2 linked regions of the Homo sapiens genome follow. Changing the gene in region 2 together with the main gene of any one other region gives a genetic interaction. Each region holds a gene or a part of one and is shown on either strand. Other genes may lie near its edges. The genes, in order: NPY4R and ERBB3.

Region 1 (4,296 bases), on a different chromosome or scaffold from region 2:
GTTCTGATGATAAAGAAGTTGGAGTGCTGTATGCAGACTTTAGTGACGGAATTGTTCAGGGAACATGGGTAGAATGCCCCTTGTCACATTTTATCTTAATGGAGACAGCAATAAATGCCACTCTGCACAGGATTGCTTGTGTCCTTCCACGGCACCCCATTCCCTTCAAGATAGAGCTAAAGCCTCGGGGATCCACAATCAGTGCACCCTCCTGGTCTCAGCCCCTCCCTGCCCTGGTAGCCTTGTTTTTTAGGTGATACCTGGCAAAACTGAAGACTGCCCAGTATGCAAAGCCTGGCTCATCAGCACACCAGCTTCTTCCTACTACCCACCATGTGCACAGACATACCTGGCCAAAGTCACAGGTGCCCAGTGCCCTCCACAGAACCTACTCCATGACTATGTTCAAGTCACTTGATGCAGTGTGCAGCTCACAAGCACACCAGACTCTTCCACATCTCTATGCCCTGGTACAGGCTGTCCCTTCTCCGAGGACCTCCTCAGCACAACGGACCCCCTGCCAAGACTGAGTTGGAATTTAGACTCCAGAGTTCCCCCGTGTTAGTGCCAATGATGGATGTTTTGCATGGGAAGCACCATACCACTACATACATCATTGTGACTCACCTCTCAGATTCTCTAGTCATTATTAATCCCACAGGGTTGCAGTTCTCAACCTTCAGTAAACATCAGAATCATTCTAGAAGCATGTTGAAAGTGCAGATCCCAGGGCCCTTCCACCAGGAGATGTAGTTAAGTGAATCCAGGATGGGGGCCAGGAATCTGTATTTAACAAGTAGACTATGTGATTCTGATGCACATGGCCCTTGGACCCCATCTTGTAAAACACTATAGCAGAAAACCCTATTTGAGATATTCTTTAAGTCTCATATCATGGCCATATGTATTTTTTACATGATCAATTGCTATGTTAAGGCAGTTTTTGCAGAGCACAAGGCCAAAATCAACCAGAGCTCAGTAAAATCTATTTGTCGGCTGTCATGAATGTCACTTGCTGTGCATCTGATCTACTTATAAAGATGAGTTTCTAAGGTCAGGACTTCAACACCTGCCTGGCCAACATGGTGAAACCCCGTCTCCGCTGAAAATACAAAAATTAGCCAAGTGTGGTGGTGCATGCCTGTAGTCCCAGCTACATGGGAGGGTGAAGCAGGAGAATCACTTGAACCTGGGAGGCGGAGGTTGCAGTCAGCAGAGAGTGCACCACTGCACTCCAGCCTGGGCAACAGAGCGAGACTCTGTCTCAAAAAAAAAAAAAAGAGTCTCATTTGGTCATTTAAAAGATCAAGCTGTGAATTCACCTGATAGTTTACAGTCTGGTTATTTAGGAACCAGATCTCGAAGGCAGGAAGATTTCTCCAGCACTATGGTCTTCGGGCAAAAAGGGCCATTTGGGGCTGAACATGGCAAAATAAACTATTCCAGAGCCAAACACAGGGCCCAATATAAGATAAAGAACAGTCGCAGCTGCATGAACCTGTGGCAGAGGCACTGCACTCAGAAGCAGCAAATGGGCCAGAACCCAAGGCTCTGGGTGACCATCAGCAAGGCTTGGCCAGTGGTGTGGAGAAACACCATTCATCCCAAACCAACCACCTAAAGCAGGATCAGAGTGGAAGGACTGGGCTGGGAGGGCTCCAGAAAATGCTCACTGCTTCATTCACCCACTCAATAAGTGTGTGTCAAGCCCTGGGCTAGAAACAAGGGCTGCAAAGATGACTTATACAGTCATGGCCCTCCCAGAGCAGAGGGGCTGACCAGCACGAATGCAGATGGAACTCATTGCCATTGCCAACACCAATATGAAAGAGAGGCCTGTGAGTTGAGAGATCAGAGAAGGAGCAGGGAGCAGGGAGGTGAGAGAAGAGGTGGCAATGGTACAGGGCTCAAAGGCTGAAGAGGAGTCAACCAGCCAAAGGGACAGGGAGAGGAGGGAACTCGAAGTGCAAGGAACAGCATGTGCAAAGGCACAGAGGCAGGAAGGAGCAGAGCCTGCTGGGAAAAGTAAGCAGAATAAGAGGTTCCAGGGTGGCAGATGATGAAGCTGGAGTGGTGGGCCAGACCAGCAAGGTCAGGTCCATTCCAGTAAGATCACTTGGATATAGAAAATGGATTGGCAGAGAGGGCCAAGACAGGAGGAGGAGGAGCACTGAAAAGGTGGTGTTGGGCATCTGCCTGGGGCTGCTGGGCTTGGGGTACACTGACCAGTGAGGACCAGGGGACCTCAAGTCCCTCAGGCACACCCAAGGGGGTGGCGAGTGTATGAGGGGGAGGGTAGATTATTACGCAAGGTCAATAAAATGGTGTCTCTGCATTTTGTCCCCAGGCAGCTCTCCAGATACAAAAACTAGAACCAGCTGCAAGCCCCAACAGGGACCCCCTGCAGCCTGCCTTCCCAGTCAATCAGAGGAAAATTAATGAATCATACACACAATGCTAATCTCCCAGTGGGGTTAGAATAGGGAAGGCCCTTTGCTTTGTCTCCTGAAATCTCAGCAAAAGCTACTATATCCTAATGCCCATAGCGCCCAGACACCTCAGATGCACCCCTTACCTCCTTGGCTTGCGGCTTACAGGGTGCGGATGGGGCCGCCCATGTCTCAGGTGAGGAGACTGAGGTCCACAGTGGGGGTAGGATGCTCCCCAGATCCAGTGTGACGCTCTGCGCCCCGGGCCAAGGGCAGGCAGCGCGCCCGGCTTCCCGGAGGGTTCGTACCGGGGCCCACTCGGCCCCGCCCCCGGCCGCACTCCTGTGCCCAGGGGGCACCAGGCGCGGGGCAGAGCCGCGCCTGCTTCACCTGCTCCTGCTGCCCCGATGCTGCCTGCGTGCGGAGTGGAGCGGCTGCTACGCTCCCGCCTGCGCCCGCCCAGCCTGCCCCTTGCGCCCGCCCACGAGAGGGCTCCAGCCGCCCGCCTGCCCCGGGACCCCAGCACTCGCCCTGGGGAGCCGCATCTTGAGCCCCCAAGGCCTGCCCGGAACTGCAGCCCTGCCTGCGTGTGTCTCTCACGCCCACCTCAACCCTGGATACAGGCAGGCTGGAGCTGCGCTGTCTTTCTCTCTTTCTTTCTTTCTTTCTTTCTTTCTTTCTTTCTTTCTTTCTTTCTTTCTTTCTTTCTTTCTTTCTTTCTTTCTTTCTTTCCTTTCTTTCTTTCTTTCTTTCTCTCTCTCTCTCTCTCTCCCTCCCTCCCCCTCCCTCTCTCCCTCCCTTTCTCTTTCTCCAGGAGTGTTTCTCTCTGTCTAGGGGTGTGTGCGTCTGCCTGTCTCTCTCTCTCTCTGCCTCAGTTTCCTCATCCATGAAATGGGTATAAAAAGACCTGCCTTTCATAAGTTCGTCCAGAAACATTACTTGCAGACCTCCTATGAGCCTGGCTCTCCTGCTGGGCACCAGAGCTGGACAAGACAGGCTCCCTGTCCTTGGTTCCTTCTGGAGCTCTCAGCCCTGGGGGAGAAGACAGACAGGGTACAAGGAAAGAGGGAAATAAATTATTACAGGGGGTGAGATGCTGTGAGCAAATGGGTTCGATAGGCCAGATGGATGGCACAGCCACGGCAAAAGCCCTGAGGCTGGGAGCATTCAGCCCCTGGAGACCAGGGGAGGGCAGTGTGGCTGAGAATGTCAGCCAGGGTGAGGGAAGGAGATGGGCATCCAGGGTGTGAGTGAAAACTCAGGGTGGGCCCTGGAAGTGGAGTGTCTTATCTCAGGCAGTCCCAAGGTTGTGGCGATGAGAATTCAATGAGAATGGTCACTTTCTCCTTTGGAGCTGAGATGCACATGACTTGGCTATAATGGAACAGCTTTGCTTACAAGGGCTGCTCCTGTTTTGAATACACTAGCTTATAATTCCCTGCCCCCCATCCCCACATGGCAAAGTCACATATGCGCTTAGAGAACCTCCTGAGAGTAACAGATCTGCTTCAAGAGCACCTCCTAAACACTGGACATACACACCTGTCCAGTGAACCTCCTGTGGCTCCCCATGGAAATGTCCCCATGAAGTCATGGCAGTGGTCCCTCTAGAATGGCAGCTGCCGTTTGTAGTGCAGAGACTCTGCAGACACTACCTTAGTTAATCATCACAACAGCTCTGAGAGGTGGGCATTTTTATTCCCATCGTGCTGATGAAGCAAAGTGACACTCAGTGGTTGAGCAACTTGCCCAAAGTCACTCAGCTAAGAAACAGCCAGATCCAGGATGCGAACCCACCTGCCAAGCCCCCAGGCCTCTGCTCACCATCGCTGTAGACTGGCACCTGTCATCTCTTCTTTCTGGACCA
Region 2 (3,809 bases):
GAGTCAGGGAGGAGAGGGCTGAAAGGACTATTCTGCCCTAGACGTGGGAGTAGGGTTGAGGGATGGAACCAAGGAGAAGGGGGCTGTTAGGCTGGAAGCAGTAACGAGGAAGAATAATGAAGAGAGGGCTTGCTGGGAGTCCTCAGACTCCTCTCCTAACCCACCCCTTCCTTTCCAGTGGCAGAGGGCAAAGTGTGTGACCCACTGTGCTCCTCTGGGGGATGCTGGGGCCCAGGCCCTGGTCAGTGCTTGTCCTGTCGAAATTATAGCCGAGGAGGTGTCTGTGTGACCCACTGCAACTTTCTGAATGGGTACAGTAAGGGGAGCCAGTCAAGGATGGGTGGGGGTGGGGCCCTGCAATGGAACTGTTCAGGTGGCATACAATAAAAGTCTTTAGACAGCTTTCTGCATGTGCCTTGGTGGGATTGAGGTAGGAGACCTGTGGTTGTGAGATCGGAGCATGAAGGTCAGGACTTGGAAGTGACCCCCCCCTCCCTTTATTCCCCACTACAGGGAGCCTCGAGAATTTGCCCATGAGGCCGAATGCTTCTCCTGCCACCCGGAATGCCAACCCATGGAGGGCACTGCCACATGCAATGGCTCGGTATACTAGTAGCACCAGGATCTCCAAGGGAGACAGAGAAGGGGCAATACTTGGAGCATCTGGGGAATGATATGGCTAAGGATAGCACAGAGAGGCCAGATAATGCTAGGGCCTGCAGATAGAAGATCCTGAATGTCTGGGTTGGTCTTTGCTGGGAGGTATGGAATTGACCTTGGGATCTGATTCTTCCTGACCTTCTCTCTTCCACTCAGGGCTCTGATACTTGTGCTCAATGTGCCCATTTTCGAGATGGGCCCCACTGTGTGAGCAGCTGCCCCCATGGAGTCCTAGGTGCCAAGGGCCCAATCTACAAGTACCCAGATGTTCAGAATGAATGTCGGCCCTGCCATGAGAACTGCACCCAGGGGTCAGTGATGGGATAATAAGGAGAGGGGGTCAGGTGGAAGGGTAGGAGCACAGAACTAGAGTGAGGGAAGCAGAAAGAAGAGAGAGGCTGTGATTCAAGAATCACTCCCAGCTGGCCGGGCGCAGTGGCTCACACCTGTAATCCCAGCACTGTGGGAGGCCGAGGTGGGTGGATCACCTGAGGTCGGGAGTTCGAGACCAGCCTGACCAATATGGAGAAACCCTGTCTCTACCAAAAATTTAAAATTAGCCCGGCGTGGTGGCGCATGCCTGTAATCCCAGCTACGCGGGAGGCTGAGGCAGGAGAATTTCTTGAACCCAGGAGGCAGAGGTTGCGGTGAGCTGAGATTGCATCATTGTACTCCAGCCTGGGCAACAAGAGTGAAACTCTGTCTCAAAAAAAAAAAAAGAATCACTCCCAGCTGTGTAGCGAAGGATTGGAGAAAGGGAAAATCAGTAACAGCACAAAATTACACCACAGTTTTGGGAACCTGGAATAACCTCAGTTCAAGGGAGTTTCACAGAAGAGGGGCTTGGGGAGAGCTAGTGAGCTGGAGGTGGAGGCCATGTCTTGGGATCAGCTCTGGGCTCCAGGATGGGATGCCACGGTAAGTTCTGAAACAAGCTTTTATATGTTAGGCTGTTGAAATTGAGCCTCTGCTGTCCAAGCTCTCATTTAAGGTGGTGACTTTCTTCCCTAGGTGTAAAGGACCAGAGCTTCAAGACTGTTTAGGACAAACACTGGTGCTGATCGGGTATGATGGGGTTGGAGATTCTGGAAACTGGGGATATTTGGGAGTTGGGAGAGAGGTGGTTACCTGGAGAGAAGAGGGAGGCTGTCTTCATTCTGGCCTTTTATGTATGCAGTCCACTATCACTGGACACTTGGGACTCAAGAATGCAGGCTTCTGGACTTCCCTTCCTAAAATTAACTTTCAGTAGTCTAAGACTGGTCCAGATTTAGGTTGGTCCCTTCAGTGCTTAAGGATATATATGTGAATGTTAATTTCTTGCCCCAGGTCAGCATCATACCTTCAACACAAGTATAGTTGACATTTGTAAGGAAGATGCAAACCCAGGATAATGTTGGGTTTCTATATATCCCATAGCAAAACCCATCTGACAATGGCTTTGACAGTGATAGCAGGATTGGTAGTGATTTTCATGATGCTGGGCGGCACTTTTCTCTACTGGCGTGGGCGCCGGATTCAGAATAAAAGGGCTATGAGGCGATACTTGGAACGGGGTGAGGTGAGTACTTAGCTTACTTTTGTTTTTTCTTTTCTTTTTTTGCATGTCCTGGAAGTCTCTTTATAGCTTAATTTTGAGTGGTACCCTGTGCACCCAGGGGTCAGTGATGGGATAAATGTCACTCCCCTCCTCTTTCCCCAGAGATTTGATCCCTTTCTTCAAGGAAGTAGTGTGGTCCCCTAGAAGAACACTGGTCAGAGAAATGGGAGGCATGCATTCTAGTCCTGATTTTGCCATTAATTTGCCACATGACTTTGAAGAAGTTACTTATCTTCTCTGTGCCTCGGTTTATGCATCTATACAGAGGAAATAACATTTGTCCTTCCAGGATGGCTGTAAGGGTAAAGGGGGATGATGTATGTGAAAGTGCTTTGGAAAGCACAGAGCACTGTATAAAAGGTACTCAAGGTGGTAATAGTACTACCAACTCTCCCTAGCTGTCCCCTTCCCCACTTTGTGCTCCTCCATCAAAGGGAAAACCCAACCCCTTTGATTCCTGATCTCATGAGCACAAATAACTTCCTCAGTTCTCAGGGTCTGTACCTCAATATGCCTATAATCCATTCCAGGACTAACGGTGCTTCCTCTTCCTGCCCTTTCAGCTGTGCTGCTTTTGGCATTCACCTATGAGGAGCGGGTTGGAGTGGGACATGGGAATGGCCTTTCCTGAGTAACTCCTTCCCATTTGCTCCTCAGAGCATAGAGCCTCTGGACCCCAGTGAGAAGGCTAACAAAGTCTTGGCCAGAATCTTCAAAGAGACAGAGCTAAGGAAGCTTAAAGTGCTTGGCTCGGGTGTCTTTGGAACTGTGCACAAAGTGAGTGACCCATAGGAATTCTGGAGAGGTGGGGAAGGCATCTAGGGCAAAGGGGTGAAAGATTTTTGCATAGGATTGACCTAGGGAGAATGACCTTATGCCAACTCCTGCCCCAAACTTCCCAGGGAGTGTGGATCCCTGAGGGTGAATCAATCAAGATTCCAGTCTGCATTAAAGTCATTGAGGACAAGAGTGGACGGCAGAGTTTTCAAGCTGTGACAGATGTAAGTGAAGGAAATTCTGTATGCCGCTAGGAGAGAGGACAATATTAGATACAATCATGTAGAAGCAGGGTCCTGTGCTTCTCAGCAGCTACTATGTTAGCCAGAATGTTGGGGGTGGGGGGGCCTGGGCTGGCTGTGCACATGCTGAGTGTATGTGAACCTGTTGGTTTCCTAGATAATACCTTTTGTGTCTCTTAGCATATGCTGGCCATTGGCAGCCTGGACCATGCCCACATTGTAAGGCTGCTGGGACTATGCCCAGGGTCATCTCTGCAGCTTGTCACTCAATATTTGCCTCTGGGTTCTCTGCTGGATCATGTGAGACAACACCGGGGGGCACTGGGGCCACAGCTGCTGCTCAACTGGGGAGTACAAATTGCCAAGGTGAGAGAAGCCTGGAGGAATTCTGTGATAAGAACTGCTTGTCTGGGGGCCAGCCAGGAAAAAGTGAGAAGGTTGAAGTTCTGAGAGGTGAGGTCCCCAACCCCCGGGCTGCAGACTGGTACCAGTCCATGGCCTGTTAGGAACCAGGCCACAGAGCATGTGAG

The links.
Region 1: changes in ERBB3 (region 2) and NPY4R together harm fitness less than expected from each alone (positive genetic interaction), as found in Homo sapiens cells (one large-scale study listed by BioGRID).

The regions. Positions count from the first base shown.
Region 1 is NC_000010.11:46,463,103-46,467,398, forward strand, and holds the start of NPY4R (neuropeptide Y receptor type 4), read right to left. Parts: upstream 2,857-4,296; 5' UTR 2,576-2,856; intron 1,631-2,575; exon of another isoform or gene 784-1,630; 5' UTR 628-783; intron 1-627.
Region 2 is NC_000012.12:56,093,586-56,097,394, forward strand, and holds part of ERBB3 (receptor tyrosine-protein kinase erbB-3 isoform 1 precursor), read left to right. Parts: intron 1-178; coding exon 179-311; intron 312-513; coding exon 514-604; intron 605-816; coding exon 817-971; intron 972-1,671; coding exon 1,672-1,725; intron 1,726-2,079; coding exon 2,080-2,221; intron 2,222-2,917; coding exon 2,918-3,037; intron 3,038-3,162; coding exon 3,163-3,261; intron 3,262-3,459; coding exon 3,460-3,645; intron 3,646-3,809. UniProt on the Homo sapiens protein: Tyrosine-protein kinase that plays an essential role as cell surface receptor for neuregulins.